2 linked regions of the Homo sapiens genome follow. The protein of the gene in region 1 binds, or shares a complex with, the protein of each later gene. Each region holds a gene or a part of one and is shown in the gene's direction. Other genes may lie near its edges.

Evidence for each region. Proteins that work in one complex are often made in the same cells at the same time.
Region 2: TAF6L (region 1) and TADA3 share a complex: the UniProt entries of both Homo sapiens proteins name them as parts of the STAGA transcription coactivator-HAT complex.

What each region holds. Positions count from the first base shown.
Region 1 is NC_000011.10:62,774,396-62,781,525, forward strand, and holds part of TAF6L (TAF6-like RNA polymerase II p300/CBP-associated factor-associated factor 65 kDa subunit 6L), read left to right. Parts: intron 1-199; coding exon of another isoform or gene 200-270; intron 271-1,375; 5' UTR 1,376-1,388; coding exon 1,389-1,535; intron 1,536-1,988; coding exon 1,989-2,075; intron 2,076-3,582; coding exon 3,583-3,733; intron 3,734-3,889; coding exon 3,890-3,940; intron 3,941-4,473; coding exon 4,474-4,568; intron 4,569-7,130. UniProt on the Homo sapiens protein: Functions as a component of the PCAF complex. The PCAF complex is capable of efficiently acetylating histones in a nucleosomal context. The PCAF complex could be considered as the human version of the yeast SAGA complex.
Region 2 is NC_000003.12:9,779,465-9,782,601, reverse strand, and holds the end of TADA3 (transcriptional adapter 3), read left to right. Parts: exon of another isoform or gene 1-919; coding exon of another isoform or gene 920-1,089; intron 1,090-2,052; coding exon 2,053-2,245; 3' UTR 2,246-2,635; downstream 2,636-3,137. UniProt on the Homo sapiens protein: Functions as a component of the PCAF complex. The PCAF complex is capable of efficiently acetylating histones in a nucleosomal context. The PCAF complex could be considered as the human version of the yeast SAGA complex.

The sequences.
Region 1 (7,130 bases):
AAGACAATGGGGAGCCATTGGGAGGAGTGCTGCACAGAAGCCACATAGCTGTCCATTGGATGTAGGGACCTGGACGTCACTGGTGACCCATTGATCCCCTGCCAGAGGAGTAGTGGGGGCAATGCCTGGGTGGGTCATCCTGGATCTGGGCCTTCCTGTCTGAGGTGTGGATGCATCACTTTGGCGCACGGGAGCCTACCTTCTGGTGCTGTGCGTTGTTGGAGTGAGTCATCAGCTGCTGTTTTTGTCGGTTTCTTATTGTGCTATACCCTGTGAACAAAACAGGTTCCAGCATTTAGGCACTGCAGCCAAACTGGGGAAGACCAAACACATAGGCAGAAAGCCCAGCTACTATCCAGCCTGGCCAACATGGCGAAATCTTGTTTCTACTAAAAATACAAAAATTAGCTGGGCGTGGTGGCACGTGCCTGTAATCCCAGCTACTTGGGAGGCTGAGGCAGGAGAGTTGGGGGCAACAAGAACAAAACTCCGTCTCAAAAAAAAAAAAAAAAAAATTTAGCCATCCGGGCGTGGTGGCAGGTACCTGTAATCCCAGCTACTCAGGAGGCTGAGGCAGATAATTACTTGAACCCGGGAGGCGGAGGTTGCAGTGAGCTGAGATCGCGCTGCTACACTCCAGCCTGGCGCCAGAGCGAGACTCTGTCTCAAAAAAAAAAAAAAAAAAGAAAAGACTGGGTAATGTATAAAGGAAAGAGGTTTAACTGACTCAATGCTGGGGAGGCCTCAGGAAACTTACAGTCATGGTGGAAGAGGAAGCAAACATGTCTTTCTTCATGTGGCTGCAGCTAGGAGAAGTGCCGAGCAAAAGGGGGAAAAGCTCTTTATAAAACCATTAGATCTTTTGAGAACTCACTATCAGGAGAACAGCATGGGGGAAAATGTCCCCTTGATTCAGTTATCTCCACCTGGTCCCGCTCTTGACACGTGGGGATTATTAAAATTCAAGGTGAGATTTGTGCGGGGACACAGCCAAATCATATCAGTCATCTCATTTTCACAGCAACCCTGTGAGCTAGAGAGGGCAGGAATTATTGTGCCTGTTTTACAGTTTAGGACACAAGGGCTCAGACTGATGAAGGCCTTGGCCAAATTCACATAGAAGGTGACAGGGCAGGAATGGGACCTAGTTCTGTGAACCCCAACACTTTGGACTTTGTCTAGCTTCACCGTTCTTGACCCACTGGCCAGTCTGTTTCCTTCTCTGAGCCTCACTTTCCTCATCTGGGTACTCAGAGCTCCTTGTTTAGAAACTCCAGAGCACGAGCAGCAAGGCTGGTGTGGAGGGTGTTGGATCACACTCCTGGGCTCTCCGGGAGGCTGGGCAGCTTTTCCAGTCTTCATTCTCCACTCCCAGCTCCACTGGGGCCATGTCAGAGCGAGAAGAGCGGCGGTTTGTGGAGATCCCTCGGGAGTCTGTCCGGCTCATGGCGGAGAGCACGGGCCTGGAGCTGAGCGATGAGGTGGCGGCGCTGCTCGCAGAGGACGTGTGCTATCGTCTGAGAGAGGCCACGCAGGTACACTCCCCTCACCCCCTGATACCTCCAACTTTCCTTGTTTCTGCCTTTTTACTAACCTCCACCCTCGCTGATTTATTCAAGTGTACACTGGGTGCCTGCTCCATACAACAGAGACAGTCCATGCCTTTACAGAACTCTACTTGTAGCTGTCTGGGCTTCCAGCAGACAAAGCGCTTGCCAGGCATCTTCCCATGTGCTCCTCACAACAGCCCTGTTGGGCAGGCAGAGCGGGTAGATACTCACATTCTGCATGTGAGAAACTGAGGTGTTGACAGAAGATGTGACACCCGGGGGGTGTTTTTGTACAGGAGCAGAGACGGAATCTAGGCTTCTGATCCCTAAGCGTGGTCTCCTGTTTGCCTTCTCTCCAGTCTGGCCCACTTCATTTGGGGTTTCCCATGCCCCCTGCTTCACATCCTTTGACTCTGGCTTTTGTTCCCTCCCTCCCAGAATAGCTCTCAGTTCATGAAGCACACCAAACGCCGGAAGCTGACGGTTGAGGACTTCAACAGGGCCCTCAGATGGAGCAGCGTGGAGGTGAGTGGGGTGCAGGCTACAGAGGGCTCAGGTGGCATGAGGCCACTTCCATGTCCAGTTCAGGGCTGGCGATGTGGTGAGACATTAAGACCAAACGCTGCCGGGCATGGTGGCTCATGCCTGTAATCCCAGCACTTTGGGAGGCCGAGGTGGGCGGATCACTTGAGGCCAGGACTTCAAGACCAGCCTGGCCAACATGGCGAAACCCCTTCTTTACTAAAAATACAGAAATTAGCTGGGCCTGGTGGTACATGTCTGTAATCCCATCTAGTCAGGAAACTGAGGCATGAGAATCGCTTGAACCTAGCAGGCAGAGGTTGTGGTGAGCTGAGATTGCACTCCAGCCTGGGCAACAGAGCAAGACCCTGTCTCAAAAAAAGAAAAAAAAAAAAAAAAGGCCGGGCACAGGAGCTTACACCTAAAATCCCAGCACTTTGGGAGGTGGAGGCCGGCGGATCACGAAGTCAGGAGTTTGAGACCAACCTGCCCAACATGGTGAAACCTCGTTTCTACTAAAAATACAAAAATTAGCTGGCCGTGGCGGTGGGCGCCTGTAACCCCAGTTACTCAGGATGCTGAGGCAGGAGAATCGCGTGAACCTGGGAGGCAGAGGTTGCAGTGAGCTGAGATTGTGCCACTGTACTCCAGCCTGGGTGACAGAGCAGGACTCCATGTCAAAAAAAAAAACAACCAAAAAAACACAAAAATTAGCTGGGTGTGGTGGTGGGCACCTGTAATCCCAACTACCTGGGAGGCTGAGGCAGGAGAATCGCTTGAAACTGGAAGGCGTAGGTTGCAGTGAGCCGAGATCACGCCACTGCATTCCAGCCTGGGCGAAAGAGCAAAACTCTGTCTCAAAACAAAAAAAAGAAAAAAAGACTAAACGCACACATAAGGGAAGCAAGACCCTGATAGCAACAGCAGACCAGGTGCTAGGCCCAGCCCACCTGGGCTATGTGTTCAGAAAAGAGGGAGAGGAGGCCACTGGAGGCCCAGAGGTTAGAGAAAGCTTTTTGGAGGAGGTGGGACTGGAGCTGGCCCTTAAAGGGTGGTGAAGAACTTGAGCTTGGCTTAAACTAGGCCAAGAGGAAAAGAAGGCATTCAGGCTAAGGGAGGAGCCTGAGCAACAGTGTGGGTGTTAGGGCCTCATGGTGTGGTTTTTCTGGAGCGGTGAGTTGAGAGAGGAAGGCTATGTTTAGAAGACATTAGTGAGTTTTCAAAGTTGAGTGAGTGTGAATAAGGAGGACCAGTGCTTGGTGTGGGGCTCAGGACCCTTCCAGTTATGGGAGGAGCGACCATGTTCTTTCCCTTGACCCAGGGAGCCCCGGATGCTCCAGGCAAGTCCCCAGTGGTGGCTCTGAGTCCCAGGCTTCCACCACTTTTCTTGGGACTTCTGGACTTCCTTCAAACGTGGGCTCTCTGCTCTGGTCAGTGGAGCCTCATCCTGGATCCTGACGCCTGCTCCCTCCCTGGATTCAGGCTGCTCTCCAATTCCCTTTTTCCTCAGGCTGTGTGTGGTTACGGATCACAGGAGGCACTGCCCATGCGCCCCGCCAGGGAGGGTGAACTCTACTTTCCTGAGGATCGAGAGGTGAACCTGGTGGAGCTGGCCCTGGCTACCAACATCCCCAAAGGCTGTGCTGAGACAGCTGTCAGAGGTGGCTGCCGGGGTCCTGCATGGGTTGGGGATGGGAGTTGGGCCGTGAAGAGAAGTGGTGATGGGCTGGCTGGTGGAAGAGGCAGAACTTGGAGGGGTAGGCGGTACTCTAAGGGGCAAAACGCCAGGCTGACACATCTCTCTGCACTGCTTCTAGTTCATGTCTCCTACCTGGATGGCAAAGGGAACCTGGCACCTCAAGGATCGGGTAAGGGGTGATGTAGGAAACAGGCTCTTTGGATGAATTTTCTCCCTTAGGTTCTGAGGGTGGTGCCTATGTGCCCCCGAGTCTGCGTCTAACATGTGTTTACCCATGCCTGCCTTGTGCCATGGTCTGAGTGGGCGCTGGGCTCTGCATGGAGGGCTCAGAGTTGGAGATGGGGGCCCAGACCTGTAACTAGTCATAATGCAGCATGTTGGATGCTAAGACAGAAGTCTGGGCAGCATGCTGGGGCGGTGTTTCACCCCCAGGGTATGCTGAGCAGAGCTTCACAGAGCCTGAAGCTCTCAGGAGTCCGTCTGGCAGAGGGTGGGTGGAAGACAGGACAGAGCACAGAGGTGTGCAGAGCCTAGATGGTCAGGGCTGAGCAGGCTCTAAGAGCAGTCTCTTGCCCTGGTTGTCCTGTCAGAAAGGCTTCTTGTGGATGTGTGTGGGGATGGTGGTTGAGGGGGAGGAGGCTGGAGAGGCCAGGAGAGGGCCAGCTCTCCACCTGTCCCTGCTTCCTGCCTGTCCTCTGGCAGTGCCCAGTGCTGTGTCTTCACTGACAGATGACCTTCTCAAGTACTATCACCAGGTGACTCGTGCTGTGCTAGGGGATGATCCGCAACTGATGAAGGTGAGCGAGTGGGCCCAAGTTGGGGCACAAAGTTGAAATTGTAAATTCTAGACCTGTTTTTTTTTTTTTTTTTTGAGACAGAGTTTCGCTCTTGTTGCCCAGGCTGGAGTGCAATGGCATGATCTCAGCTCACCGCACCCTCTGCCTCCCAGGTTCAAGTGATTCTCCTGCCTCAGCCTCCTGAATAGCTGGGATTACAGGCGTGTGCCAGCATGCCCGGCTAATTTTGTTTTGTTTTGTTTTGTTTTTGAAACGGAGTCTTGCATTGTCACCCAGGCTGGAGTGCAGTGGCGCGATCTCGGCTCACTGCAAGCTCCGTCTCCTGGGTTCATGCCATTCTCCTGCCTTAGCCTCCCGAGTAGCTGGGACTACAGGTGCCCGCCAACATACCCGGCTAATTTTTTGTATTTTTTAGTAGAGACGGGGTTTCACCGTGTTAGCCAGGATGGTCTTGATCTCCTGACCTTGTGATCCACCTGCCTCAGCCTCCTAAAGTGCTGGGATTACAAGTGTGAGCCACCGTGCCCAGCCTTATATTTTTAATAGAGACGGGGGTTTCAGCATGTTGGTCAGACTGGTCTCGAACTCCCGACCTCAGGTGATCCACCCGCCTTGGCCTCCCAAAGTGTTGGGATGACAGGTGTGAGCCACTGTGCCCGGCCTAATTCTATGAACATTTAAATTTTTATTTATTATTTTAATTAAAAAAACATTTTTTTTAAGATGGGGTCTTGCTCTGTCACCTAGGCCGGAGTGCAGTGGTGTGATGTTGGCTCACTGCAGCCTCTACCTCTTGGGTTCAAGCAATTCTCCCACCTCAGCTTCCCAAGTAGCTGGGATTACAGGGGCATACCACCATGCCTGGCTAATTTTTGCATTTTTAGTAGAGATGAGGTTTCACCGTGTTGGCCAGGCTGGTCTCAAACTCCTGACCTCAGGTGATCCACCCGCCTCTGCCTCCCAAAGTGGTGGGATTACAGGCGTGAGCCTATATATATATATATATATATATATTTTTTTTTTTTTTTTTTTTAGAGACAGGGTCTCACTGTATTGCCCAGGCTGGTGAAACTCCTGCCCTCAAGCAATCCTTCCTTGGCCTCCCAGCACTTTGGGAGGCAGAGGTGGGCGGATCACTTGAAGTCAGGAGTTCGAGACCAGACTGTCCAACATGGTGAAACCCCATCTTCACTAAAAATACAAAATTAACTGGCTGTTGTGGTGGGTGCCTGTAATCCCAGCTACTCGGGAGGCTGAGGCAGGAGAATTGCTTGAACCCAGGAGGCAGAGGTTGCTGTGAGTCAAGATCACACCACTCAGGTGGATCACCTGAGGTCAGGAGTTCAAGACCAGCCTGGCTAACATGGTGAAACCCCGTCTCTACTAAAAATACAAAAATTAGTCACGTGTGGTGGTGGACGCCTGTAATCCCAGCTACTCAGGAGGCTGACGCAGGAGAATCGCTTGAACCTGGGAGGCAGAGGTTGCTGTGAGCTGAGATTGTGCCATTGCACTCCAGCCTGGGCAACAAGAACAAAACTTCATCTCAAAAAAAAAGATCACGCTGCTGCACTCCAGCCTGGCTGATAGAACGAAACTCCGTCTCAAAGAAAAACGAAAAAGTAATACTAGTACATGTTTACTGTAGAAGTACATATAATATAAAAACATAGAAAAAGAAAGTGGCTGGGTGCGGTGGTTCACGCCTGTAATCCCAGCAGTTTGGGAGGCCGAGGTGGGTGGATCATGTGAGGCCGGGAGTTCGAGACCAGCCTGGCCAACATGGTGATTTCCCGTTGGATATCTACTAAAAATACCAGAAAATTAGCCGGGCTTGGTGGCATGCGTCTGTAATCCTAGCTACTTGCGAGGCTGATGCAGGAGAATCGCTTGAACCCAAGAGGCAGAGGTTGCAATGAGCCGAGATCGCGCCACCGCACTCCAGCCTGGGCAATAGAGTGAGACTCCATCTCAAAAAAAAAAAAAAAAGGGCCGGGCACGGTGGCTAACGCCTGTAATCTCAGCACTTTGGGAGGCCGAGGCGGGTGGATTGCTTGAGGCCGGGAGTTCGAGACTAGCCTGGTCAACATGGCAAAACCCTGTCTCTACTAAAAATACAAAAATTAGCTGGGCGTGGTGGTGGGCGCCTGTAATCCCAGCTACTTGGGAGGCTGAGGCAGAAGAATTGCTTGAACCCAGGAGGCAGAGGTTGCAGTGAGCTGAGATTGAGCCACTGCACTCCAGCCTGGGCGACAGGGCGAGACTCCATCTCAAAGAAAAAAAAAAAAGAAAAAGAAACTGAAAAGTCTATTCCTCCACCTACTTTTTTTTCTCTGTATCAACTATGATTACTCTCATAAAAACCTAAGTGGTATTATATTAAGCATCTGGTTTTATAGATTGCCTTTCTCAGTTAAAAATGTTGGATGGCCGGGCGCGGTGGCTCACGCCTGTAATCCCAGCACTTTGGGAGGCTGAGGTGGGCAGATCACGAGGTCAGGAGATCGCGACCATCCTGGCTAACACGGTGAAACCCCGTCTCTACTAAAAAATAGAAAAAAT
Region 2 (3,137 bases), on another chromosome or scaffold:
GGGCCAGCAAGAGAGGCAGAGCAAGGGACTTGCAGATTACTAGCAGATGATCAGTAAAGATAAGTGCCATTAAAAGGAGAGGTAGTTGCTGACAAGCTGCCAGGGTATTTAAGGATAAGAGTGACTAATGTATGCTGAGGGCCTACTGTGTGTCAGGGGCTTTATGTACACTCTCTCAAGTGTCTTGACAACAACCCAGGAGGGAGGAGCTATTTTCGTTGTTTACCAGATGAGGAAATAAAGGCCCAGTGAAGCGAAATGCTCTGCTGAAGGTCACACAGTCAATAAACAGCAAGCTGAGACTTGAACCTGTGGTTGAATCAAAGCCTCTTTCTATAATAGTTTGTTTTCTCTGAAAGGTGAGAAGAAGAAAACACAGATGGAAGAGGCACTGAGGGAAGCAGAGGGAGAGAGAGGAAGAGAGAGAAAAGCAGGCATGTGCAGTTACAGAAGTAGTGGGCCCTAGCTGGGCCTGGTGGCTCATGCCTGTAATCCCAGCACTTTGGGAGACTGAGGTGGGAGGCTTGTTTGAGCTCAGGAGTTCGAAACTAGCCTGGGCAATGTAGTCAGACCCCCTTCTCTACTAAAAATTTTTAAAAATCAGCTAGGCATGGTGGCACATGCCTATAGTCCTACTCAGGAGGCTGATGTGGGAGGATTGCTTGATCCTGGGAGGTAGAGGCTGCAGTGAGCTTGATCAGGCCACTGTACTCCAGCCTGGGTGACAGAGTGAGACCTGTCTCAAAAAAAAAAAAAAAAAAAAAAAAAGAAGTAATGGGCAATGAAGAAATGGCTTGCAGCTCTCAGGAAACCAGAGCACAGCCCTTACCCTGCTGCAGAGCAGCTGCAAGGCCTTAAGCAGCCCCTGACCTGAGCATCTCCTTCCCCTTCTGGAAAACTGGCAGGCTGGACTCAATCACTAAGTGACCTTCCAGCTCCACCATCGATGAAATGTATAAATCAGACCCTGTTCAGAGAGATTGATCTGGTGTCTCACCCACCTCCTGTCAGCCTCAGGCTGCCTAGACCTTAGGGGGCTCTGGAATGCAGATGCCGACGTAAGCAGGCCTTCTGCTGGCACCGGAACACCTGAAACAACAGTGTTTAAAAACAAGAGTTTGGCCCCAGCCTGCTCCAGATCTCCCCCTCACTAACTGTGGGATCCTGGGATCATCTTTGAGCCTCATTTTCCTCACGGGTAACATATGAATAATAGTACATATTTTGCAGGGTTGTTAGGATTAACTGAAAGACAGAGAGAGAGAGTGGGTGTGCCTGTGTGTGTGTGTTTGTGTGTGTGTATGTATATATATATATATTTTAGAGACAGGGTCTTACTCTGTTGCCGAGGTTGGTCTCAACTCCTGGCTTCAAGTGATCTTCCTGCCTCCATCTCCCAAAGCGCTGGGATTACAGGCATGAGCTACTTTGCCCAGCCTACTGTGTATATTTTTAAGACCTTTTTTTTTTTGAAGACACAGTCACGCTCTGTTGCCCAGACTGGAGTGTAGTGGCATGATCATAGTTCACTGTAACCTTGAACTCCTGGCCTCAAGCAATCCTCAGCTCCCTTGGAGTTGGGACTACAGGTGTGCACTACCACACCCAGCTAATTTTTTAAATTTTTTGTAGAGACAGTCTCACTATGTTGCTCAGACTGGTCTCGAACTCCTGGGCTCAAGTGATCCTTCTGCCTTGGGCTCCCAAAGTGCTGGGACTGCAGATGTGAACCCCCATGTGCAGCCAAGACTTTATTCTTCTAGAGCAGTTTTAAGTTCACAACAAAATTGAGAGAAAGGTACAGAGAATTCCCGTATCTCCCTGTCCCCACATGTGCACAGCCTCCCCCGTGATCAACATGAGTTAATATTTTTCAGGAGCTTAAGATAGTGCCATGTAAGTGTAGGTCAGTAACTGCTTTTTGGTCACGACTGTATGACACAATCCACAGGCATGCCAGCCTGGGCTGGTGGGTAGGCTCGGTCTTGAAGAGGGAGGGGTTGTTCTCTGGAGGTGGGCTGACCCTGGCACCTGGCTGGCTGGTCCCCACAGGCTGGCAAAGGAGGAGGTGAGCCGGCAGGAGCTGAGGCAGCGGGTGCGCATGGCTGACAACGAGGTCATGGACGCCTTTCGCAAGATCATGGCTGCCCGGCAGAAGAAGCGGACTCCCACCAAGAAAGAAAAGGACCAGGCCTGGAAGACTCTGAAGGAGCGTGAGAGCATCCTGAAGCTGCTGGATGGGTAGCCCTCACCCCTGCCTCAGGCTGATTATCTGGCCTAGGGGAGGGGAAGGGAGGCCCACTTCCTTCTTTGGGCACAGGAAACATTGGCCTGTGGCTGTCCCTCAAATGGCGGCAGTCTCTAGAGGGCCGTGGCCCTTCCCCTGAGGTCTTTTGGCCTAGCTCTGTACAACCAGGACACAGGAAGCCCTGCTGGGCTAGCCTGAGGCCTAGTCTCTGCTTGGTCCCCGAGATGGGGTTGGAGGGGACTTCGTTTCTGGGTCTTCCTCTTCCCCTCTTTACCATCCCCCACTCCCTAATCCCCTACCCCTGTCTCCCCTTCAAGGACTTCTCCCTTGTGGTTTTGTAAAGTGCAAACTTAAGAATAAAGTGACTGCTGTGGTTTTTCAAAAAAAGCATCCAGTCTTTGAATGTCTGTTACAGTGGGGAGGAAGGAACCAGTGTGGGTGGTAAGGTTTGTGGGGGGTATGCTTGGTGGCTCTCAGCCCATGGCCACTAACCCATGGCATTCAGTCAGGGAGAACTTTCTGAGTACCTCTTTCTGAGGATACTTGTGGCTGCACGTAACAATGCCCCCCCAGCTCAAAGTGGATTCACAGTAAGGAAATGTGTTGGCTGCAGGATGGGCAGTCCTGGGACAGAGTGGCCTTCACGGTTAGCCAATCTAGCAATTCTTCAGGGTCATCAAGGGTCCAGGTTTCTTTTTTTTTTAATTTAAGTTCTAGGGTACATGTGTACAACGTGCAGGTTTGTTACATATGTATACATGTGCCATGTTGGTGTGCTGCACCCATTAACTCGTCATTTACATTAGGTATATCTCCTAATGCTTTCCCTCCCCCCTCCCCCAAGGGTCCAGGTTTCTTAGGGGTCACCACACTGCCCTCCACAGTGTCG